Homo sapiens: one gene and its partners. The protein of the gene in region 1 purifies or fractionates together with the protein of each later gene. This does not show direct contact. Each region holds a gene or a part of one and is shown in the gene's direction. Other genes may lie near its edges.

What was found.
Region 2: the proteins of FBLN5 (region 1) and POLR1E purify together in Homo sapiens (affinity purification with mass spectrometry; one large-scale study listed by BioGRID and IntAct). This does not show direct contact.
Region 3: the proteins of FBLN5 (region 1) and ZNF430 purify together in Homo sapiens (affinity purification with mass spectrometry; one large-scale study listed by BioGRID and IntAct). This does not show direct contact.
Region 4: the proteins of FBLN5 (region 1) and PRR14L purify together in Homo sapiens (affinity purification with mass spectrometry; one large-scale study listed by BioGRID and IntAct). This does not show direct contact.
Region 5: the proteins of FBLN5 (region 1) and ZNF460 purify together in Homo sapiens (affinity purification with mass spectrometry; one large-scale study listed by BioGRID and IntAct). This does not show direct contact.
Region 6: the proteins of FBLN5 (region 1) and R3HDM1 purify together in Homo sapiens (affinity purification with mass spectrometry; one large-scale study listed by BioGRID and IntAct). This does not show direct contact.
Region 7: the proteins of FBLN5 (region 1) and ZNF77 purify together in Homo sapiens (affinity purification with mass spectrometry; one large-scale study listed by BioGRID and IntAct). This does not show direct contact.

Annotation. Positions count from the first base shown.
Region 1 is NC_000014.9:91,934,195-91,937,694, reverse strand, and holds part of FBLN5 (fibulin-5 isoform 1 precursor), read left to right. Parts: intron 1-493; coding exon 494-748; intron 749-3,500. UniProt on the Homo sapiens protein: Essential for elastic fiber formation, is involved in the assembly of continuous elastin (ELN) polymer and promotes the interaction of microfibrils and ELN. Stabilizes and organizes elastic fibers in the skin, lung and vasculature.
Region 2 is NC_000009.12:37,488,948-37,492,447, forward strand, and holds part of POLR1E (DNA-directed RNA polymerase I subunit RPA49), read left to right. Parts: intron 1-367; coding exon 368-453; intron 454-3,334; coding exon of another isoform or gene 3,335-3,428; intron 3,429-3,500. UniProt on the Homo sapiens protein: Component of RNA polymerase I (Pol I), a DNA-dependent RNA polymerase which synthesizes ribosomal RNA precursors using the four ribonucleoside triphosphates as substrates.
Region 3 is NC_000019.10:21,055,157-21,058,656, forward strand, and holds part of ZNF430 (zinc finger protein 430), read left to right. Parts: intron 1-1,474; coding exon 1,475-2,865; 3' UTR 2,866-3,500. UniProt on the Homo sapiens protein: May be involved in transcriptional regulation.
Region 4 is NC_000022.11:31,743,633-31,747,132, reverse strand, and holds part of PRR14L (protein PRR14L), read left to right. Parts: intron 1-3,500.
Region 5 is NC_000019.10:57,279,207-57,283,284, forward strand, and holds the start of ZNF460 (zinc finger protein 460), read left to right. Parts: upstream 1-1,278; 5' UTR 1,279-1,600; coding exon 1,601-1,630; intron 1,631-4,078. UniProt on the Homo sapiens protein: May be involved in transcriptional regulation.
Region 6 is NC_000002.12:135,537,984-135,541,483, forward strand, and holds part of R3HDM1 (R3H domain-containing protein 1), read left to right. Parts: intron 1-3,500.
Region 7 is NC_000019.10:2,934,972-2,938,471, reverse strand, and holds part of ZNF77 (zinc finger protein 77), read left to right. Parts: intron 1-1,767; coding exon 1,768-1,948; intron 1,949-3,500. UniProt on the Homo sapiens protein: May be involved in transcriptional regulation.

The DNA of each region.
Region 1 (3,500 bases):
TTCCGAAGTACGCAAGGCATCACACGGTGAGGGGCCTGGGCTGCTAGCTGAGGTCTCTCTTCCTCTTCTTAGAAAGCCACCAGTTTCATTTCCAAGATAACCCATTAACCCATTAATCTATGAGTAGATTAATCCATTCATGAGAGTACAGCCCTCAGGATCCAATCACCTCTTAAAGGCCCCACCACTCAATATTGCAACACTGGGGATTAAGTTTCAATATGAGTTTTGGAGGGACATTCAAACTATAGCAAGGTTTTTGTAGATATGGTCAAAATCATGATGGTGGTATTTGAAAGGCTGATGTTTGAGTGACACTGGTTACTTTGATACACTTCAGCCAACATTTGGGGTACCTTACCGCGATGAGTTGGGACCACCCTAGGTGTTTGGGAGTGCTTCCTCCACGCCTGGTACCGAGTTCTGCTTAAATATGCACCGGACACAAGGCAGTTGGGGTGCCACTAATGCTCGCCCTTTCTGTGCCTTTCAGATATTGATGAATGCCGAACCATCCCCGAGGCCTGCCGAGGAGACATGATGTGTGTTAACCAAAATGGCGGGTATTTATGCATTCCCCGGACAAACCCTGTGTATCGAGGGCCCTACTCGAACCCCTACTCGACCCCCTACTCAGGTCCGTACCCAGCAGCTGCCCCACCACTCTCAGCTCCAAACTATCCCACGATCTCCAGGCCTCTTATATGCCGCTTTGGATACCAGATGGATGAAAGCAACCAATGTGTGGGTGAGTAGCCCGGCCTTTTGTTCCTCTCCGCTGTGCTTTGGTGAAGACATCGTCTGTATCTGGCATGCTCACCACAAATGGGTTGTTAGTTGCCATTCAATGCACCAGTGAAACAATGACTTACTCTCTGCATACTTATTTCACTCTTAGCAGCCTGTATCTCTGGGTTCCTGCCCAACTAGGGAGGTTATTTTGCTGTTTTGTTCACAGTTCTCCAGAAAACCAATTTTTTTCTTTATTTTACTTTCATCTATCTACCTACCTATCTGTATCTATCTATCTATAACTCATCTATATATTTAAAGACCAAGGTAATATTTTCTCAAATAACCAATACATCTGGTCAGACTTATTACAGTAAGTAAATCTCAGAGGAAGTTCTAGACAGGGCCAAAGCTCTGTCCTCAGCCCCCGCACCCTTGATTGGAACATGTGCTTCTGCAATACAAGAAGCCTTGAAGGGCACGGCCAACTGTTCTGGAAAGAAAATTAGGTTACTTGGGTTGGAACTAATGTGCTTGTGACCAAAAGGAGCCTCACTGATAGGAACTCACAGCAAGAATGGACCTCCGGGAAGAAGCAGGCACAAAGGAATTGGCAAGGGGTGTGACCAAGGTGCGCTGTGATCGCGCCTGTGAATAGTCACTGCGTTCCAGCCTGGGCAACATGGTGACACCTTGTCTCTTAAGAAAAAATATATATGAATTGAAGTTTTATTACTTTTTTCCTCTACCCCAAAAGTTTGAGAGACCATTGGTCTAGCAAGATTTTTGTTTGTCCCATTTTGTTTTTTGTTTTTCCCATTTTTGTTTGTCCCAAGATTTTGTTGTCCCATTTCAGGGCTCTGGAGTGTTGAGCTGTAACCCACTATTAGGGAAGCTGTGTTGGTTAATTTAAGGTGTCTTCTATATGCTTATATGAAGGAGTGTGCATTCTCTTTTTAATACAATAATTGCAGACAAGTGTCTTCAGAGCTATGAGGGAACACTGGGTATGCTTGAACCCAAACTTCTGCATTTTCGCTGGTCTCAAGGCGTGTGGTCTCTGTGTGTGTTGGCGTGGGGAGAGAGAAAGAGTGAGAAAGACAGAGCTGGTTAATGTTTACCTTAAACGTAGATGACTGTGCAAAGGGAATGAGCGCAGGGTCCGGTCAAGCCAACTTTGGTGGAGAAGATGGTAACATGCTTCCTTATAACCAGCATCAGGAGGAAAGACCTTTGTAACTGGAAGGGACTTTTTTTTACCAATCTTTAACTTCAACTTCTTCATTTTGTAGAAAGGAGAGTGTGGACTCCAACCAGTTAGGTAATTACAGAGGTAGGATGCCAGTCCAGCTCCCCTAACTTCTCCCCTGTCTACAATCTCCTAACTATAGGAAATGACCTCTCCTATCTGGTAGAAAAGAAATGATCCCAAAAGAAAATGCAGAGATAGAGGTGGGAGGTGCTGCTCTTCCAGGATGTCACGTGGGGGCTGGATAAGCCAAGTGATCAGCCCTTACGTGTCTTGAGGTGAGGAAGAGGGTGTAATGATTCTTTCGAGGCACTCTGCGGTTTTGGCAGGGGGCCTTGGGTGGTCGTGGTGCAGACAGGTCTAGCTGATGCCTCGGGCAAGCTCAGCGGCCTCCTTTGCAGAACGGCTGGGAACTGCTGCGGCTTTCTCCAAAGTGTCTCCCTCCTTCCCCTAAACCTCTTTCCAGGGTCCCAGTGCCCTTGACAATGAGGACATGGCTGGGAAACCTATTCCTCCCCTGGTCCCTCTGACGTCATGCCATTTATGGCTCTGAACCTGTCACACGGGAGATGCGGAACTTTCATAATGGCCCTTTTGTAAGGAGAATACAATCTAGGAGCCCTAGTGAGGACTGGCACCAGGCCCATCCATTTCCAAAAAGTTCAGCATTATGCATTCATAAGTCCTGAGTTCTTTCTAACTTCCCTTCACCCCACCCCATGGTTTCCTGGTTTTACACAGGGCTTTCAAATGGCCCTCGCTGAGGTCCCTCTGCGTATTGTAAAGAGCTGGCATTGTGGGGGTGGGGGGAAGTAAGAGAAGGGATGGGAAAGGGAGGCTCTTTCTACCTACCGCTCCTTCCAAGAACTGGGATGGAAGAGAGGTGGGCCTGGGAGCAGGTGGAAGGGAAGCAAGGCACCGTGGCGGAAGGTGGGAGGGAAGGAAACCAGATGGGGGGATCATTGAGAAAAGACAAGGAGGTGAGTGTGGAGGTGTCACTGCCCAGAGAATGTGGGTGTTTTCCAGAGCACAGCTCTGATCCTGTGGAGGAGGCATTGCATGAGCAGTGGGTAAGTCAGGGAGACTTGGGAAACATTTCTGAAACTTTAGTGTTCTAGGAGAGGAGGAAACATCTCCAAAGGTGTCTTGTCCTCTTCATCAAAATAAGAATAGCGATCAACAGTAACATCCGCAGCAGCAGTGGTAATAATATCAAACACTTGGATAGAACTCGTGTGCTAGGACCTTTACAATAATTAATGCGCTTGATCCTCATAACCAGCTACAAGGTAAAACTATTATCATTCCTATTGTACCCATGAGGAAACCGAAGCAGAGAAACTAAGAAACCTGTTCAAAGTCACACAGCAAGTGAGGGGCCGAGCCATGATTTGAACCATTCAGGCTTTGAATGAGAAAACAGGCTCAGTGAGGTATAGATTTGTTCGAGGGTGCTCAGAGTCAGTGCTGAAGTCAGGATTAAAAACAAGGTCCTTCTCTTGCTATTTTTGTTTTCTGA
Region 2 (3,500 bases), on another chromosome or scaffold:
AGGAAACAGGGCCAGGTGCAGTGGCTCACGCCTGTAATCCCAGCACTTTGGGAGGCTGATAGGGTCAGATCACCTGAGGTCAGGAGTTCGAGACCAGCCTGGACAACATGGTGAAACCCATCTTTATTAAAAATGCAAAAATTAGCCGGGGATGGTGGCGTGCGCCTGTAATCCCAGCTACTCAGCAGGCTGAGACAGGAGAATTGCTTGAACCCGGGAGGTGGAGGTTGCAGTGAGCCGAGATCATGCCACTCCACTCCAGCCTGGGTGACAGCAAGACTCTGTCTCAAAAAAAAAAAAAAGAAAGCTGTACAAATAATGCTTTTGAATAATCCATTGTTATTTGTATTATTTCTTCTTTATTCAGGCACTTTGTGGGAATTTTGAACAAGACCTCTGGCCAAATGGAAGTATATGATGCTGAATTGTTCAACATGCAGCCACTATTTTCAGGTAGGTCCCAGTCATGAAAGCTGACAGAAATAATGCATAGTTTGGGTTTGCTGGATGAGTTGGCTTGAGTTTTAGATTTATAAAACACATTTTATAGTTATTTTAATTTATTTATTCTGTTTTTTCTGCTTTGTCTGTGTTGAGAAAATGGTTTTTTATATACACACTGTTTTTTGTTTTTTGTTTTTTTTGAGATGCAGTCCCACTCTGTCACCCAGGCTAGAGTGCAGTGGTGTGATATTGGCTCGCTGCAACTTCCACCTCCCGGGTTCAAGTGATTCTCCTACCTCAGCCTCCCGAGTAGCTGGGATTACAGGTGCACATCACCACACCCGGCTAATTTTTGTATTTTTAATAGAGACAGCGTTTTACCATGTTGGCCAGGCTGGTCTCAAACTCTTGACCTCAGGTGATCCACCTGCCTCGGCCTCCCAAAGTGCTAGGATTACAGGCGCTAGCCACTGCGCCCGGCCTAGAGTTTTTTATTCAGCACACACTTATTGATAACCTAATGTACCAGGCACCAAGCTGGGGCTGTGGATGTGGCAGTAAGCAAGACAGACACAGATCCTGTCCCCATAGTGTTTAGAGACTTGAGGTCAGAGGTTCATAAAAGCAATCTGAGCAATGATCAGAGCAGAATATTAGAGGACATGTCTGATATAAAATCTTTTCCATAAAAGAACTTCCTTCATTCTTTTTATTTTTATTTTTTATTTTTGTAAATTACTTTATTTCTTCCTTGATCATTTCAAGGGACTATCTTCAAACCAGTACAAATATTTCATACGTAATACCTGGCCATTTTCTAAACAATCGAGGAGTTTGTTGCACAATAAGCTACCTCACGTCTTTCAGCAAGAAATACATTAAATTTGAAGAGTAAAGACATTACATAATGAACTAGGACATAATTAAAATTTGCCTTAAATATTTCTTTGGGGGAGAGAACACCACACTTCTACTCAATGAAGAGAAACATTTTTACAGTCCAGAGGTCTTTCATTTTTTAAACACCTGTCACGCCATGAATTCATAGGGAATAGGTTCCAGCAGCTCAGGCTGCTTCCCATTGGTTCTCACCAAGTGTGCTTCTCTGGGTGGAGCAGGCTGGCGCTTCAGTTGAACCCAGGTACCTTTCTCTTTTGCTTCTGTCTTTTTCTAATCATCTTTCTTCACCCGTTTCATGAAGCTTTCTCGGCTCTTAGAGTGCTTAATGTGCTCAATACGCACACTAATTCTCTTGGCAAGAATCTTGCCCTTGTTTGTTTACAACAATGCCAGCAGCATGCTAAACTGTAGACGCTTCCAGTTTAGCCATGGTAACACTTGAGGGGCATTCCTTTTTGAACAGTACCCATTCCCTTGATGTCTACGATATCACCTTTCTTATAGATTCACATATATGTGGCCAAAGGAACAACTCCATGTTTTCTAAAAGGTCTAGAGAACATATATTGGGTGCCTCTCCTCTTTCCCTTTGTGTTTGTCATTTTGATGAATTACTGCAAGATGGCAGTTCTGGCCGAAAGGGTTCTTTCTTAATTCTTAACTGTTATAGTTGGGGTAAAGAGGTTTTAGAATTTCTGGTAGACAAAGGAAATTGCTTATTAAGTTGTATAGTAACTTTCACGTTGAGGACAAGTCTCTACACTAATTTGAGGAAGATCTATTTTTTTTCCCTAATCCAGTGGAAGAATTTACATTGTTTCTCTGCTTTGTCATCTTAGAATGCTCAGGGCTAGAGTGAGATCTTCCAAAATAATAAATAAAAGGGTCACACTCAAGGGGCTTCTGTTCCTTAAATCTCAGAACTTGAATCCTTAGTGATGCCCTTAAATACTGGGAACCATGGCAGGATAGGGCGATAGACAAGAAAGAAACATTGGGAGCATTGTGAATCTGCCTGATACCTCAGAGGCATTAGTTCCAGTTTTATTCTCTCAAAGCAGTGCTTCCATCCCTTTTGAGAATCTGCTAAGGACCTGGACCTACTTCTGAGAAACATATATGATACACAAATACATATATATGGGATTTTTTTTAATATGGGATTTTATACATAATTTTTTTTTTTTTTTGAGACCCAGTCTCGCTTTGTCACCCAGGCTGGAGTGTAGTGGTGCAATCTGGGCTCACAGAAGACTCTGCCTCCCGGGTTCTAGCGATTTTCCTGCCTCAGCCTCTTGAGTAGCTGGGGTTATAGGTGTGCGCTACCACACTCGGCTAATTTTTGTATTTTTAGTAGAGATGGGGTTTCACCATGTTGGCCAGGCTGGTCTCAAACTCGTGGCCTCAAGTGATTCACCCACCTTGGTCTCTCAAAGTGCTAGTATTACAGGTGTGAGCCACCGTGCCTAGCCAAATTTTACACGTAATTTTAAAGGTCTCTTGAGTCCGGACACCCATCTGTGAATTTCCTAGGTGTCCCCCTGCTTTGCAAACATATATAACTATATTTAAATCATCTTCCAACTGTTCTTGTAAAATCCAGGGAGGCAAGGAAAATTGTAATTTAACGTGTTGATTAAACATATTTTTGTTGTTATATGTAAGAAGTTTGTAAATATGAGTTTATTCTAGGTAGCACACACACAGAGATAACATTTAAGTCCTTACTATATGCTAGTCACTGTTCTAAGCACTTTCCATGCATATACCAACCTTCTGGAGTAAGTACTGTTGTTCTTTTTTTACCAGTGATGAAACTGGCACAGAGGTTAGATGACCTTATCAGGGGTGATGGCTGAGATAACAGGCAAGGCCACTCCAGAGCTTGTACTGTTGTGTACTAAGTTATACTGCCCTTATTTGAGTACTTTGTAGATGATTGGAGAGCATCGGTAAGTACCACATACCTCATGTTTATGCCTGCTTTTAGGTCTTTCACCAAGAAAGCAAAATTATTTTCTGGAAAGAGCCAAGGACTTGTTTTCTAATCCTGTCTCTGCCACTACCTGGTGAACTGACCTGGGGCAAGTAATTTCATCTGTGGGCCTTCTGTTTTTTAATTTCTAAAATGAAGAGGTTGGGCTGGATGACCGCTT
Region 3 (3,500 bases), on another chromosome or scaffold:
ATATATACATTTTTTATGGTTTCTCTCTGAAACTTTTATATTTTTGATAAAACCATATTGCCTTATTTTGTATACATTGTAATCTTTGATTGAAATTTGTACATTTAAAAAAGCTACCTGTCACAATCCTTATAATGTAGCTTTGTCCTGGCATAGTCTGGACAATTGTCTTGATTAGAGATACTGGGAGTCTCTCAAACATGTTGCTAGAATGTGTCTTGTCTACAATTTTGTGTTTATTTTTTAATTAAAAGAGTTTGTGTTTCTTCTTTTTTTAGTTTTTTTTTTTGTTTGTTTTTTGTTTTTTTGTCAGACGGGGTCTTGCTCTGTCTCCCAGACTGGAGTGCAGTGGCGCAATCTCGGCTCACTGCACCCTCCGCCACCTGGGTTCAAGTGATTCTCCTGCCTCAGCCTCCCAAGTAGCTGGGAATACAGGTGTACGCTATCACACCTGGCTAACTTTTCTTTTGTTTTTTTAGTAGAGATGGAGTTTCACCATGTTGGCCAGGCTGGTCTCAAACTTGTGACCTCAAGTGATCCGCCAGCCTTGGCCTCCCAAAGTACTGGAATTACAGGCATGAACCACCACAACTGGCCTTTTTTTGTTTCTTCTTAATAGTAATAACTTGCTACACCTGTTTTCTGTGTGTGGCACTGCAGTCTCTCTGCTGCTGTAACATTTAGCTTTGGTCTCAGCAGACTTAAACTGTCATTCCAAAGTATACCACCATTTCTTTCAGCACTAGATGTCATAGGAGACAGAAACCAGTGTATAGATAGGTCCCTAGAAGCAAGTAATAAAGATGTATGTGGCAGTATTTTAATTGTCTTTTAAAAAAGAAACCAAAAGTTGGCAGTGGGGAGCAGGAAGAGCTGTGTTGGGTAAATTTAACAGACTTTTCTTTTTCTTCTGTGTCACTCTCTATGTTGTGCTCAGCTGGGGCACTTCACACACTTAACTTATTTATAAATTTTCCTCAGATGTATTTTTGTTGGATGTTTTTGTTACATTTACATGTCTGTAAAAAATTAGGGCCTTTGGGCCAGGCGCGGTGGCTGGTGTGCCAAAGTGCGGTAATCCCAGCACTTTGGGAGGCTGAAGTGGACGCATCATCTGAGGTCAGGAGTTCGAGACCAGACTGGCCAACATGGCGAAACCCCATCTCTACTAAAAATACAAAAATTAGCTGTGCGTGGTGGTGCGTGCCTGTAATCCCAGCTACTTTGGAGGCTGGGGCAGGAGAATAGCTTGAGCCTGGGTGGCGGAGGTGGCAGTGAGCAGAGATCACGCCATTGCACTCCATCCTGGGCTACAGAATGAGACTCTGTCTAAAAAAAAAAAAAAATTAGGGCCTTTATTATTTTGCTATGCCATCTTGTTTATGTAGTTTGTATAATTATATGGGTTAGATTTGTAAAGCATATTCATCTGAGTCTAGTAAATGGAGTAATTTGTTATTTTTATTTCTTTCAGTTACATATTCTCATTTTGCCCAAGACCTTTGGCCAGAGCAGGGCATAAAAGATTCTTTCCAAGAAGTCATATTGAGAAGATATGGAAAATGTGGACATGAAGATTTACAGTTAAGAACAGGCTGTAAAAGTGTGGATGAGTGTAATCTGCACAAAGAATGTTATGATGAACTAAACCAGTGTTTGACAACTACCCAGAGTGAAATATTTCAATATGATAAATATGTGAATGTCTTTTATAAATTTTCAAATCCAAATATACAAAAGATAAGACATACTGGAAAGAAGCCTTTCAAATGTAAAAAATGTGACAAATCGTTTTGCATGCTTTTACACCTAACTCAACATAAAAGAATTCATATTAGGGAAAATTCTTACCAATGTGAAGAATGTGGTAAAGTCTTTAACTGGTTCTCAACCCTTACTAGACACAGAAGAATTCATACTGGAGAGAAACCCTACAAATGTGAACAATGTGGCAAAGCTTTTAAGCAGTCCTCAACCCTTACTACACATAAGATAATTCATACTGGAGAGAAACCCTACAGATGTGAAGAATGTGGCAAAACCTTTAACCGGTCCTCACACCTTACTACACATAAAAGAATTCATACTGGAGAGAAACCCTACAGATGTGAAGAATGTGGCAGAGCTTTTAACCGGTCCTCACACCTTACTACACATAAGATTATTCATACTGGAGAGAAACCCTACAAATGTGAAGAATGTGGCAAAGCTTTTAACCAATCCTCAACCCTTACTACACATAAGATAATTCATGCTGGAGAGAAACCTTACAAATGTGAAGAATGTGGCAAAGCTTTTTACCGATTCTCATACCTTACTAAACATAAGATAATTCATACTGGAGAGAAATTCTACAAATGTGAAGAATGTGGCAAAGGCTTTAATTGGTCCTCGACCCTTACTAAACATAAAAGAATTCATACTGGAGAGAAACCCTACAAATGTGAACAATGTGGCAAAGCTTTTAATGAGTCCTCAAACCTTACTGCACATAAGATAATTCATACTGGAGAGAAACCCTACAAATGTGAAGAATGTGGCAAAGCCTTTAACCGGTCCCCAAAACTTACTGCACATAAGGTAATTCATTCTGGAGAGAAACCCTACAAATGTGAAGAATGTGGCAAAGCTTTTAACCAATTCTCAAACCTTACTAAACATAAGATAACTCATATTGGAGATACATCTTACAAATACCTAGAATGTGATAAAGCCTTTAGCCAGTCTTCAACTCTTACTAAACATAAGGTAATTCATACTGGAGAGAAACCCTACAACTGTGAAGAATACGGCAAAGCTTTCAACCAGTCCTCAAACCTTATTGAACAAAGTAATTCATACTGGAGAGAAACCCTACAAATGTGAAGATTGTGGCAAAGCCTCTAACCCGTCCTGAATTCTTACTAAACATAAGAACATTCATACTGAAGAGGAACCCTATGAGTGTGAAGAATATGGCAAAGCCTTCAACAAGTCCTCAATTCTTACCAGACATAAGATAATTCTGGCTGGGTGCGGTGGCTCACACCTGTAATCCCAGCACTTTGGGAGGCTGAGACGGGTGAATTACATGAGGTTGGGAGTTCGAGACCAGCCTGACCAACATGGTGAAATCCTGTCTCTACTAAAAATACAAAATTAGCCATGCGTAGTGGTGCATGCCTGTAATCCCAGCTACTCGGGAGGCTGAGGCAGGAGAATTGCTTGAACCCGGGAGGCAGAGGTTGAAGTGAGCTGAGATCGCGCCATTGCACTCCAGCCTGGGCAACAAGAGTGGCACTCCATCTCAGAAAAAAAAAAAAAAGATAATTCATACTGAAAAGAAACTCTACAAACTTGAAAGATGTGACAGTGCTTTTGACAACACCTAAAACTTTTAAACATAAAAAATCATACTGGTGAGAAATCCTAGAAATGTAAAGAATGTGACAAGGCCTTTAAATGGTTGTCACACTTCATTATAGGTAAGATAGTTCATACTGAAGAAAACTTCTACAAGT
Region 4 (3,500 bases), on another chromosome or scaffold:
GTCTCAAAAAAAAAAGACTCCTGGGAGAGGGTCAGGCGCGGTGGCTCACACCTGTAATCCCAGCACTTTGGGAGGCCGAGGCGGGCGGATCACAAGGTCAGGAGATCAAGACCATCCTGGCTAACTCAGTGAAACCCCGTCTCTACTAAAAATAAAAAAAATAAAAAAATTAGCCAGGCGTGGTGGCGGGCACCTGTAGTCCCAGCTACTTGGGAGGCTGAGGCAGGAGAATGGCATGAACCCGGGAGGCAGAGCTTGCAGTGAGCCAAGATCGCGCCACTGCGCTCCAGCCTGAGCAACAGAGTGAGACTCCGTCTCAAAAAAAAAAAAAAAAAAAGACTGCTGGGAGAAGTATTTGTGCGTTTGCAAAGAAAGAACATGAAATAATTGTCCTCAACGTAAAAGAATTTCTACTTTTACTGGAATAATAATTTTCATACTTCCTGTAAGTATTAGTCAGTTTTTGGGAATAAATCCATTCCCTACACATTCTAATATAGTACTTATTTGTGTTGTGATAAAGACGACAAGCCAGTAGCAGCTGTCAAAAGTCGTTCATAAATCTATGGTTTATTTTTTGCTTATACCTCAAACTAGGTAATTATCTGGTATCCTCACCCAATAGGTTGATTATAAGTCATTAGCAAAGATTAAGCTGTAAATCCCTGTCTACATTTTATAAGCATGTGTTACTCACTCTTCCCTTTTACTTCACATTTAACACTTTAATGTAAAAGCATTGGTGGTTAAGGCAGAGAGCTGACAGCTGGAAAAATACTGATAAAACATACTGATAAAAAATACTGAAAATACACTTATCAGCTGTTTTTATTGCTGTGTGTTTAGATCTTGAGAAATAATGGTTAGACAACATTTTAACATATGTAATATATACTCACTGTTTTGAAAAATAAGTACAAGGCTGGGTGCAGCAGCTCACTCTGGGAGGCCGAGGTGGGAGGATCACTTGAGGCCAGGAGCTCAAGACCAGCCTGTGCAATGTAGTGAGACCTTGTCTCTACAAGAAATAAAAATATTTGCTGGGTTCACTGCCTCGCGCCTGTAGTCCTGGCTGCTTAGGAGGCTGAGGCAGGAGGATTGCTTGAGTCCAGAGTTTGAAGTTATAGAGAGCTGTGATCAAGCCACTGCATTCCAGCCTGGGCCACAGAGACCCTATCTCCAAAAAAAAAAGTTCAACATACAGATAAGTCATTGGTGATCCTATTGTCCAAGGTAACACTGTGATACTTGGCTTATATATATATATATATTTTTTTTTTTTTTTTTTTAAACTGAGTCTCCCTCTCACCCAGGCTGAAGTGCAATGGCGCGATCTCTGCTCGCTGCAACCTCTGCCTCCCAGGTTCAAGCGATTCTCGTGCCTTAGCCTCCCAAGTAGCTGAGATTACAGGCTCCTGCCACCACGCCCAGCTAATTTTTGCATTTTTTAGTAGAGATAGGGTTTCACCATGTTGGCCAGGCTGGTCTTGAACTCCTGACCTCAAGTGATCTACCCGCCTCAGCCTCCCAAAGTGCTGGTATTACAGGCATGAGCCACCACGCCCGGCTGTAGAGATGTATTTCTACATCATCCTTTTAGATTGCTCCATTGCATTCAGGAATTTAAAGAACTTGAATGTCTTCTCAAAATCGGGTTCTGTCACTGCAGTCTTGTGGCATTACCAATATTTTGATAGATGGTGTGAGCTACTGAGCTGAAAATAAGTTTATTTTTATTTTTTATTTTTTATTTTTTGAGACGGAGTCTCGCTCTGTCGCCCAGGCTGGAGTGCAGTGGCACAATCTCCGCTCACTGCAAACTCTGCCTCCCAGGTTCATGCCATTCTCCTGCCTCAGCCTCCCGAGTAGCTGGGACTACAGGCGCCCCTCACCACACCCGGCTAATTTTTTGTATTTTTAGTAGAGACAGGGTTTCACTGTGTTAGCCAGGATGGTCTCGATCTCCTGACCTCGTGATCCGCCTGCCTTGTCCTCCCAAAGTGCTGGGATTACAGGCGTGAGCCAAAGCACCCGGCCATGTTTAACCTGCCACTCTAGGCTTGCATTTAATATCACCTCACCTCTTAGGGTTCCAGCTGTTCTTGGTAACGTATCTGCAATTCTGTTCAGAAATTTGAGGACCCAGAATTAGTCCAGGAGAAAAAGGAGGGGGTGTCTGTTTTGGTTCTCTAGCCAATGTGCCTAGTTGTTTTACAGGTTGAAATTCTTAGAATTTGGTCCAAACAAGAGTATCAAGAGGTGAACCATTTTATGTGATTATCAGTATTCACTGTTTATGATAAAGATCTGTTTAGTAAACCTGTATTTGTGTATGACCGTATGTGGAGCAACATTTGGAACAAATGTTGAGCTAGAACTGTGGGGATGGAAATGAATATGATTTACTAGAAACACTGCAGGGAGTTGAGTCCACAGGCTGCAAGTGCTGATTGAATGGTGAGGGGAAGTCAGATATGGTTATGGCTGGGGATTCAAATCTAAGCTCTAGAATATTGATGGTGCCTTTTCTGAGAAGCAACAGGATTAAGAATCAGCATGTGGCTAGTCACAGTGGCTCACGCTTGTAATTCCAGCACTTTTGGGAGGCTGAGGTGGGAGGATTGCTTGAACCCAGGAGTTTGAGACCAGCCTGGGCAACATAACAAGACATACAAAATTATCTACAAAAATAAAAAAGTAGGCCGGGCATAGTGGCTCACGCCTGTAATCCCAGCACTTTGGGAGACCAAGGCGGACTGATCACCTGAGGTTGGGAGTTTGAGATCAGCCTGACCAACATAGAGAAACCCCATCTCTATTAAAAAATACAAAATTAGCTGGGTGTGGTGGCAAATGCCTGTAATCCCAGCTACTCAGGAGGCTGGGGCGGGAGAATCTCTTGAACCTGGGAGGTGGAGATTGTGGTGAGCTAAGATCGCACTGTTGCACTCCAGCCTGGGCAACAAGAGCGAAACTCCATCCCAAAAAAAAAAAAAAAATTAACCAGGCATGCTGAGGCAGAAGGAGTTCAAGGTTATAGTGAGCTATGATCGCACCACCACACTCCAGCCTGGGCGACACAGCAAGACCCTGTCTTTTTTTTTTTTTTTTTAATGAATGAGCATGTAAGTTTGCTGAGGGCGTCTTATTTATACCTGTTTCTCAAAGCTGTTTGCGTGTAGAAAGACTCAAAGACTCAGTTATTCAATAGATTGAATGAATTCTGTTTTAAACTTGGTAAGTTTTGGGGGTGCCATTCTTGCAAGTGAAATGTAGGTTAGGAATTGAAAGAAAGGTTGGGGTCAAGGTCAGGTTCTTTTTTTTTTTTTTCGAGGCAGGGTCTCACTGTGTCACCCAGTCTGGAGTGCAGTGGCCCCATCTCAGGTCACTGCAGCCTCCGCCTTCCAGGTTCAAGCGATTCTCCTGCCTCAGCCTCCCAAGTAGCTGGGATTACAGGCGTTCGCCAACATGCCCAGCTAATTTTTTGGATTTTTAGTAGA
Region 5 (4,078 bases), on another chromosome or scaffold:
ATGATGTCTTTATCAATTTTCAAAAATTACTATTGCCAGTGATGAATAACAGTGTTCCTTGCACACTAATTTAGCCAAAAATATTTCTCCAAAAGTACCGCATCGTGTAGGAAATTGACTCCATCTCCATTCCTTGACTATTTTCAATCTCAAAATTAAATCTCTTGGAGAGTACTTTCTGCACACCTTTCTATTTCCTTAACCATATATATCGTCAAACCATTGAAAGCTGGACTTTATTCTCTCACTTTCATAGTCATGAAAAGAAAAAAAAAAAGTTACTGATGGGGACTCCTAAGACTTCGCATAATATAATCTTTGCATAGTCTAGGATTGTTAAAATTCCTAACAAGACTTTATAAACTCTCCTGTCTGCAACCAGTTAATGCTGGGTTGGGCCAGGGTTCCCCTCTTTCCCGTCACTTATCCATCTACGCTCATTCTTTTCATAGCCTCACCCAATATCATGACTTGAAGTAACAGTTTACAGTAATAACTCCCAAATTTATATATCCACGCTCGAACCCTCTGCCAATGTTGAATCATAGGTTGAGTATATGGCACTACGCTTTGTGGTCTTACTGACGTTTCAAACTGATCATGCTTGAAATGGGAGTACTGGGCTTCCCGGCAAGCCTGCTCCACTAGCAGCCTCCCCACCTCAGGGTACGGGAAGTCCACACGTGGCGAACGCGAAGCCTATTACATCACCCGGAAGTCCCTGCATCCTACGAAGGCTGGGCCCGGCCAAAGGAGGCCCAATAGAGGGCGGTCTGTCCTTTCCCAGCAGGCTGGGCACACTGTCAGGCGTCCTCCTTTGGGTGGCTATTTTAACTGCTCATTTATCCTTTTCTTCTATGAAAAGATCCAGAAAAGAGGCAAAGCAAGCGAGAAGTCGCGGGCCCAGCCCACAGCAGGGTAAGCACCTTTGTTCGGGGTCTGAATCGGGGCGAATATCCCCGCCTCCTGACCTCGATTTTCCTGAGCTAGAAGGGACCTTTCGACCCTCCGACTTGTGCCTATACTAAGGCGGTGGCCCTAAGACGACGCGGGGGTTCTGGTGCGCACTTACGTGCAGTCGGATGCGCTGGGTGAGTTCCCACACCCGGTAGATGTAAGGGAAAAACTGCATTACCCAGAAGGCACTGCCCCTTGCGTCGGCCGCGGACTCTGGGCCATTGACGACCCAGGACAGGAGAGTTTTCTGCGGGCCAGGGCGGCGGAGGCGGGACTTCCGCTTCTTCGTGTGACGTCATCTCCGTGGGCCGGTTTGGCCCTGAAACAGTGTGGGGCCTAGAGCGCTGGGTGGGCGCGTTCTGCGGCCTGAGCAGGGACGGGTAGTGAAGCGGTTACGCCCCTTCTTCGCGTCTTGGCGGGAGCCTGACGCCCCGCTTCTCCCCTAACGAGGTGTCCCACCGGCGCCCGCCGAGGCCTAGGCCTCCGCAGCCGCCCTCCGTCTCCTCAGCCCCGACGCTGCGCCTTGGGCCTTGTGCGCATTTTTTTCGGGGGAAAACTGAGGCTCGGAGTGCGAAAGTCAGCCGAGGTCGCCCCGCCCAGGACAGAGAAGGGCTGTGGTCGGCTGATCCGCGGCATTCCCGGGATGGCGGCGGCGTGGATGGCTCCGGCGCAGGTGAGTGGACGAGGTTTCGGCCTTGCTGCTGCTGTGCTATTTCTAGAGGCCTCGTGGGCAGGCTGGAAGCCAAGACAGCCACAGGATTTTTCTTTGTCGCCATCGTTTATTTAAGAGAAATGGCCGTGGCTTGTCATTTCCTTTATCCGCAGTCCTGCAACAGTGTTGGCCTCTGATAGGTGTTCAGTCCGTGGTTGAAGGAGTGATGCTTCCTTCTAGGGATCTCATCACACTTCCCCTAAATCCAACCTTCTCTGTTGCCTGCCAGCCCGTACCCCATCCACCTGGCCAACCACCCCTGACCTTGTCTGTTTGCATTTTTCCCTGGTCCTTTGCTCTTCAGAGCCACCAACCTGACCGTGCAGTCCTCTTCCATTTTCCAGGCTTTCTCCTTGCACTTCCTTTTACTTCGAACACTGCCCCTGTAACTTTGCAGGGCCTCCCTTTCACATCCTTTTGGCATCTGTCCAGGTGTCACCTATTTGGAGGTGCCTTTTTTGGCAATTCCGGCTAAAGTGGCACCTTACACCCTTGCCCAGAGTCTGGTATTTTTGTGTAGATAATCTGATGGTATTAAAGAAGCTTGTGGATTTGAGTTTGTCAAGGATGTAATGGGAACAAAGAAAAATAATTGCAAAGAATGATATTAACTGTCATTGAGTCCTTGCTGTGGGCTGATCGGTGAGTATTATTTAACCCTCAGTTCGTTTAACCCTGAAATTTTTTTTTTTTTTTTTTTTTTTTTTTGAGACGGAGTCTTGTTCTGTCGCCCAGGCTGGAGTGCAGTGGCGTGACCTCGGCTCACTGCAACCTCCGCCTTTTGGGTTCAAGCGATTCTCCTGCCTCAGCCTCCTGAGTAGCTGGGACTACAGGTGTGCGCCACCACGCCTGGCTAATTTTTGTATTTTTAGTAGAGACGGGGTTTTACCGTGTTGGCCACGCTGGTCTTGAACTCCTGACCTCAGGTGATCCACCCATCTGGGTCTCCCAAAGTGCTGGGATTACTCTTTAGAATTAGGTTCTGTTGTCATCATTGTTTTACACAAGAGCAATTTGAGGGTCACATACGTCCAATTACCTGCCTTACATCACTGTAGCTCTTAAGTTTCTTAAGTCAGAAACTAACAACTGGTGTGTCTAACATCATAGCCTGTGTTTTTACCCTCTTCTTTACCCGCAGTGGTTAGGGAGGCCTGGGGGTGAGACCTAAAGTAACCTTTGCAAGATGAGGCCTCCTTCTAGCCAGTGATCTTGGGCATGAGGAGTCATGGCCTTTCATACTGGTGGAACTGTGTAGACTTAAAAAATGGTATATTGGTTGTTTAAGGAGTTCTCAGGGGACCTGTGTGGCTTCCACGGTGGTTTTATATGTGGTTCCCCTTACTCCCTTACCTGCTGACATATTCTGAGAGGGCACGTTTGTATGGTTATGTTGCTGAATGTACCCTCCTACTCAGCCAGGATAGATGTAATCTCCAGATGGGCCCATATTGTCTTGGCTACAACCTGCTGTGCCCTCTATGACTCTTGTTGCTTGCTCATGGAATCTTCTGGCCTCAGGGATGCCTGCTAGTAGGACTTAGGTAGAAAAGGAAGCGATGGCTCATTGTGAATTCTCCCTGGAAGCAGGTCCAGGCCCTAACACCTGATCAGGTGTCACCACGTCAGGTGATTCTTTGGTGAGGTGGATGATGATGACTACACTTCTCTGCCCTTGTCCATGGGAGTGGCTGAAATGTATATGTGGATTTGAAATGCTTCATTCTCATTAACTGCATTAACTTTGCTAATAGAGAAATGTCAGGTTACATAATCAGACCAGAGGGCCCTGGGCTTAAATCCTGCCTCTGTTGATAAGACCTGTGACTTTGGGCTGGGCTTGGTGGCTCACACCTGTAAACCCTGCACTTTGGGAGGCTGAGGTAGGTGGACTGCTTGAGCCCAGGAGTTCAAGACCAGCCTGGGCAACATGGGAAAACCCTGTCTCTACAAAAAGTACAAAAAATTAGACCGGCATGGCATCATGTGCCTGTAGTCCCAGCTGTGCAGGAGGCTGAGGTGGGAGGATCACTAGATCACAGGAGGTCAGGGTTGCAGTGAGCCGACATTGTGCCACTGCATTCCAGCCTGGGTGACAGAGTGAGACCATCTAAAAAAAAAAAAAAGAGAGAGACATGAACACATGAGACTTTGGGTAGACTGGTAGAGCGGAGGGTAGGACTGAGGCCCAGGTCTCAGGTCCCTGAGTGTGACATAGAGATGATGATGGTAAATTCAGATGCTGTGGCCTTTGCCTCAGTGTTTGTTTGTTTTTTTTTTTTTTTACAAACAGTTTTTCTTTCTTTCTTTGTTTTGATGGAGTCTAGCTCTGTTGCCAGGCTGGAGTTCAGTGGTGCGATCTCGGCTCACTGCAACCATCGCCTCCGACGTTCAAGCGATTCTCCTGCT
Region 6 (3,500 bases), on another chromosome or scaffold:
GAACAAACTGCAGTCACACCTTGTTTAACATTAGGGATAAATTCTGAGAAATGTGTCATTAGAGAGTTTTGTTGTGCCAACATCATGGAGTGTGCTTACACAAAACTACATGGTATATAGCCTTATAGATATCTAAGTTATATGATATGTATGGCCTGTTGCTCCTGGGCTACAAACCTATACAGTATGCTACTATACTAAATACTATAGACAATTCTAACACCATGGTTAAGTATCTGTATATGTAAATAAAGACAAGGTATGGTAAAAATAAGGTGTAAAATATTTTTAAATGGTATACCTAAGGCACTTACCATGAATGTGGCTTGCAGCACTGGAAATTATGGTAGGTGAGCCAGTGAGTGAATGCAAAGGCCTCAGACATAATTGTACACCATTGTAAACTTTATAAATGCTGTATACTTGGGTTCCACTAAATTTATAAAATATTTTTCTATCTAAAAAATTAACTTGTTTGCAGTAACTTTTTACTTTATGAATTTTAAAAAATTTTTAAAGTTTTGACCCTTTTTTAGTAACAGCTTAAAATAGACATATTATAGCTGTACAAAAATATTTTTTCTTTATATCCTTGCCCTATAAGCATTTTTCTATTTTAAAAGGTTTTGGAGTTTGTTTTTGAGACGGAGTTTTGCTCTCGTCACCATCACCCAGACTGGAGTGCAGTGGCACGATCTTGGCTCACTGCAACCTCCGCCTCCTGGATTCAAGCGATTCTTCTGCCTCAGCCTCCCAAGTAGCTGGGTCTACAGGTGCCCACCACCATGCCCGGCTAATTTTTGTATTTTTGGTAGAGACGGGGTTTCACCATGTTGGCCAGGCTGGTCTTGAACTCCTGACCTCAGGTGATCCACCCACCTCAGCCTCCCAATGTGCTTGGATTACAGACGTGAGCCACCACGCCTGGCTTAAAAGTTTTTGTTGTTGTTGTTGTTGTTGTTGTTTTTCCTTTAAAATTTTTTGTTAAAAACCAAGATGTAAACACATGCATTAGCATAGGCCTGCACAGGGTCAGTATCATCAGTATCATTGTCTTCCATCTTTGTATCTTGTCCCACCGGAAGGTCTTCAGAGACAATTACACACATGACTCTGTCATCTTGATGTTAATGTCTTTTTCTGGAATACCTCTTCAAGGACCTCCCTGAGCTGTTTGACAGTTAACTTCTGATTTTTTTTTTAAATAAGTAGAAGGAATACACTCTAAAATAATGATAAGAAGTGTAGTAAATGCATAAATCAGTATCATAGTCATTTATTACCATTATCAAGTATTACGTGCTGTACATATGTATGTGCTATACTTTCATATAGTCATATGCATATAGCAGTGCAGTAGGTTTACACCAGCATCACCATAAACACGTGAGTAATGTGTTGTGTTATGAAGGCTGTGATAATCCTTAGGTGCTAGGAATTTTTCACCAACATAGTCTTATGGGACCACTATCATTTATGCAGTCCATTGTTGACTGAAATGTCATTATGCAGTGCGTGATTGTATTGATACAGCAACTAGAATGGATCCCAAAAGAATTGCAGGCACACCTAGGAGATACTGCGAGTTCAGTTCCAGACAACCATGAAAAAGCGAGTCATATACATTTTTGGGTACCCTGGTGCATTTAAAAGTTAGGTTTACTACTGATGTTATCATTTGAAAAAAAAAAGAGTTTTATACAATTCTGTAGTCTATTTAAAGTGTGAAGAGCATTATGTCTAAAAAATGCACATATCTTAATTTTTAAATATTGCTAAAAAATTTTAATCATCTGAGCCTTCAGCAGGTTGTAATCTTTTTGCTGGTGGAGAGTCTTGCTTCAGTGTTGGTGGCTGCTGACCCATCAAGATGGTGGTTGCTGAAGGTTGGAGTGGCTGTGGCAATATCTGAAAATAAGACAACAATGAAAACAATGTCCACGTTGATGGACACTTCCTTTCATGGAAGATTTCTCGATAGCATGTGCTGCTATTTGAAAGCATTTTACCCCCAGTAGAACTTCTTTCAAAATTGTAGTGAATCCTCTCCAATTTTCCTACTAATTTACAACTAAGTTTGTGTAATATTCTAAATCCTTTGTTGCTATTTCAACAATGCTAACAGAAATAGACTTACCAGGAGTAGAGTCCATCTCAAGAAACCACATTCTTTGCTCATCCGTAATCATGAACAAATAATGATATCATGAGCAGCAATTCAAGCACATCTTCAGGCCCCATTTCTGAATCTAGTTCTCTTACTGTTTCCACCACATCTGTAGTTACTTTATCCAGGGTAGTCTTGAACCCCTCCAAGTCATCCATAAAGGTTGAAATCGATTTCTTCCACACTCTTGTTGATATTTTGTAACTTCACAGATGCGTAGGTGGTCAAAAAATAAAAATCTTTAAAAGTTGATATTTTGACCTCCTCCCATGAATCACAAATATTCTTTTAAGACATGGAGGTGTTGCTCTGTTGCCCAGGTTGGAGTGTAGTGCTGCTGTCATAGCTTATTGTAACCTTGAACTTTGGGGCTCAAGCAGTTCTCCCACCTCAGTGCTGGTGCATGCCACCACATCCGTCTATTTTTATTTATTTATTTATTTATTTTTGTAGGGACAGGGTCTTGCTCGTAGCCCAGGCTGGTCTCAAACTCCTGGCCTCAAGCAGTCCTTCTGCCTCAGCCTCCCAGAGTGTTGGGATTATAGGCATGAGCCACCATGCCCACAAATGTTGTTAATGGCATCTAGCGTGATGAATCCTTTCCAGAAGGTTTTCAGCTTACTTTACCCAGTTGCATCAGAGGAATTACTATCTTTGGCGGCCATGTAGCCTTACAAAGTGTATTTCATAAATATGAGACTTAAAAATAGAAATTAATCCTTGATACATGGGCTGAAAAATACATGTGTTAGCAGTCAAAGGAACATTCATTCTTTTTACATCTCCATCAGAGCTCTTGGGTGACAAGGTAAATTATCAACGAACAGTAAGTTTTTTAAAAGGAGTCTTTTTTTTCTGAGCAGTAGGTGTCAACAGAGGGTTTTAAGTATTCGTAAATAGCATATCTGTTGTAAACAGATGTGCTGTCATCCAGGCTTTGTTTCATTTATAGAGCACAGGCAGAGTACTTTTAGCATAGTTCTTAATGGCCCTAGGATTTTCAGAAGGTTAAATGAGCGCTGTCTTCAACTTAAAGTTAAGTATCTGCATTAGCTTCTTTTTTTTTTGGAGACAGAGTCTTGCTCTGTCACCCAGGCTGGAGTGCAGTAGCGCAATCTCGGCTCACTGCAAGCTCCGCCTCCCGCCTCCTGGGTTCACATCATTCTCCTGCCTCAGCCTCCTGAGTAGCTGGGACTACAGGCGCCCGCCACCATGCCCGGCTAATTTTTTTTTATTTTTAGTAGAGACGAGGTTTCACCTTGTTAGCCAGGATGGTCTTGATCTCCTGACCTCGTGATCAGCCTGCCTCTGCCTCCCAAAGTGCTGGGATTAC
Region 7 (3,500 bases), on another chromosome or scaffold:
GTGTCACGTTGGGGCAACAAAAGCAGCTTTGTGGTTCACCACACAGAGTAACTGTACTTTGAAAATCAAAGTACACTGTGATAAAGTAAATCCAAGTTACACTGTGAGTAATCCACGTTTGACATGGTAATTTTGCTGCAATTAAAACTCACACTCGGACATCATCGGTGGTCTGGGAAGTCAAAGTGTTGGCCTGTCTCAGGGGAACATTTGTTGCCCTTCACAATCCTTCCTCATCATGTGATTCTCCAGGAATGGGTGGTGCTCACACCTGAGGGCAGCCGGGCATAGTGGAGGAAGGACTCCTGTAAGGGCCCTGTGCCTGTGAGCACCAGGAGAGCAGCAGCCCTCGGGAGGAGTGGGTTCTGGATAAGAAGGTTCCGTTTGGCATCGTGGGTTAGAAGTACAAACCCCTGGCCGCACGCAGTGGCTCACGCCTGTAATCCCAGCACTTTGGAAGGCCTAGGTGGGTGGTTCACCTAAGGTCAGGAGTTCAAGACCAGCCTGGCCAACGTGGTGAAACCCCATGTGTACTAAAAATATAAAAAGTAGTCGGGCGTGGTGGCAGGTGCCTGTAATCCCAGCTACTCGGGAGGCTGAGGCAGGAGAATTGCTTGAACCCAGGACACGGAGGTTGCAGTGAGCCAACAAAGTGCCACTGCACTCCAGTCTTGGTGACAGTGTGAGACTCTGTCTCAAAAAACAAAACAAAACAAAAAAAAGAAACACAAACCCTTCTCTGAGGAGGAGGAGGTGTGTCCTCTCTCAGCTGCCCTGTGTGGCTTCTCCTGCACCCCCCTGCACTGTCCTCCTTCGCAGGGGAAAGCCTCTGGATTTCCTCGTATACGAGGAGCATTTGTGCATGTGCAAACTTTGCTTTTCTGATAATATTTTACTAAACATCAGTCTCCATCTGTTTGGAACTATTCTGTTTCTTAGTAAATGGGTTGCCACGTTTATCTCTTCTTTTTTTTTTTTTGAGACACAGTTTCACTCTTACTGCCCATTGCCCAGGCTGGAGTGCAATGGTGCGATCTTGGCTCAATGCAACCCCCACCTCCCAGGTACAAGTGATTCTTCTGCCTCAGCCTCCCGAGTAGCTGGGATTACAGGCACGTGCCACTATGCCCGGCTGATTTTTTGTATTTTTAGTGGAGATGGGGTTTAACCATGTTGGTCAGGCTGGTTTCGAACTCCTGACCTCAGGTGATCCACCCGCTTCGGCCTCCCAAAGTGCAGGGATTACAGGCGTGAGCCACCGCATCCAGCACTATTCTTTTTTTGAGACAGGGTCTCACTCTGTCACACAGGCTGCAGTGCCGTGGTGCAATCATGGCCCACTGCAGCTTTGACCTCCTGGGCTCAAGTGATCCTCCCTCCTTGGCCTCCCAAGGAGCTGGGATTATAGGCACACAACACCACGCCTGGCTAATTTAAATTTTTTATTGTTGTTTAGAGATGAGGTCTCCTTATTTTCCTATGTTGCCCAGGCTTGTCTTGAACTCCTGGGCTCAAGCAATTCTTCTACCTTGGCCCCGCAGTGCTTTGAGATTACAGGCATGAGCCACTGCACCCGGCTCATCTGCTTTTTATTATTGCCAAATTCTCAAGTAGATGAGGTCCTCAGAGTCTCACTTTGATAGCATGTCTATTCTTCCTTATAAACGGTACATTTTTGGATTACTATATGAAAAGAAATCCGTATGTGGTCTATTTCCTTTATCCCAACATATTTCTCCTAAGAAATTGTGTAATTGATTGTTGCAGATTGTTACATTTATGTTAGAACCAGTGGATCAAGTTCTCAGAGGGACGTTTTTGGGAATGGAATATCCAATGATGAAGAGATTGTAAAGTTCACAGGAAGTGATTCCTGGTCTATTTTTGGAGAAAATTGGAGATTTGATAACACTGGAGATCAGCACCAAATCCCACAGAGGCATCTGAGGTGAGTGGCGCTCAACCGGAGGGATGGGCCTCTCCGCAGAGCATCAAACTAACTTGCAATTCAAAGAAAAGTATCGGCTGGGCACAGGGGCTCGCGCCTGTAATCCCAGCACTTTGGGAGGCCGAGGCGGGTGGATCACCTGAGGTTAGTAGTTCGAAACCAGCTTGGCCAACACGGAGAAACCCCATCTCTACTAAAAATACAAAACATTAGCTGGGCGTGGTGGCTCATGCCTGTAATCCCATCTACTCAGGAGGCTGAGGAAGGAGAATCGCTTGAACCCAGGAGGCGGAGGTTGCAGTGAGCTGAGATCGCACCATTGCACTCCAGCCTGGGCAACAAGAGCAAAGCTCCATCTCAAAAAAAAAGTATAAACCAACTACACAATTTCAGACCCACAGAGACATTTTTTTTCTTTTTCTTTATTTTCTCTTTTTAAAAATATATTTTAATAATTACTTTTATTTATTTTATTTTATTTTTATTTTATTTATTTATTTATTTTTGAGATGGGGGTCTCACTCTGTCAACCAGGCTGAAGTGCAGTGGCACGGATCTTGGCTCACTGCAACCTTTGCCTCCTGGGCTCAAGCAATCCTCCCACCTCATCCTCCCAAGTAGCTGGGACTATAGGCACACACCACTGCACCTGGCTAATTTTTGTGTTTTTGTAGAGACGGAGTTTCACTGTGTTGCCCAGGCTGGTATCAAACTCCTGGACTCAAGCAGTCCACCCATCTCAACCTCCCAAAGTGCTGGGATTACAAGTGTGATTCACCGTCCCTGGCTGAGACTTTTCCTAAGAGAGTATTTTTATAAATGTGATGTCAATGTCACGTGTCTGAAACAGTTGGAAACAATATCAGGAAACTTCATCTATAAGAAACACCGTGGGCTGGGCGCAGTGGCTCACGCCTGTAATCCCAGCACTTTGGGAGGCTGAGGCAGGTGGATCACCTGAGGTCGGGAGTTCGAGACCAGCCTGACCAACATGGAGAAACCCCATCTCTACTGAAAAAAAAAAAAATACGAAAAAGAATTAGCCAGGTGTAGTGGTGCACGCCTGTAATCCCAGCCACTTGGGAGGCTGAGGCAGGAGTATCGCTTGAACCTGGGAGGTGGAGGTTGCGGTGAGCTGAGATCATGCCATTGCACTCCAGCCTGGGCAACAAGAGTGAAACTCCATCTCAAAAAAAAAAAAAAAAAGGCTGGGTGTGGTGGCTCACACCTGTAATCCCAGCACTTTGGGAGGCCGAGGCAGGCGGATCACGAGGTCAGGAGATCAAGACCATCCTGGCTAACACGGTGAAACCTCATCTCTACTAAAATACAAAAAAATTAGCCAGGCGTGGTGGCAGGCGCCTGTAATCCCAGCCACTTGGGAGGCTGAGGCAGGAGAATGGCATGAACCTGGGAGGTGGAGCTTGCAGTGAGCCGAGATGGCGCCACTGCACTCCAGCCTGGGTGACAGAGCGAGACTCCATCTCAAAAAAAGAAGAAAAGAAACACCGTGAAATTTATGGCTGCAGTTGAGCCTTCAGCTAGAGCATTA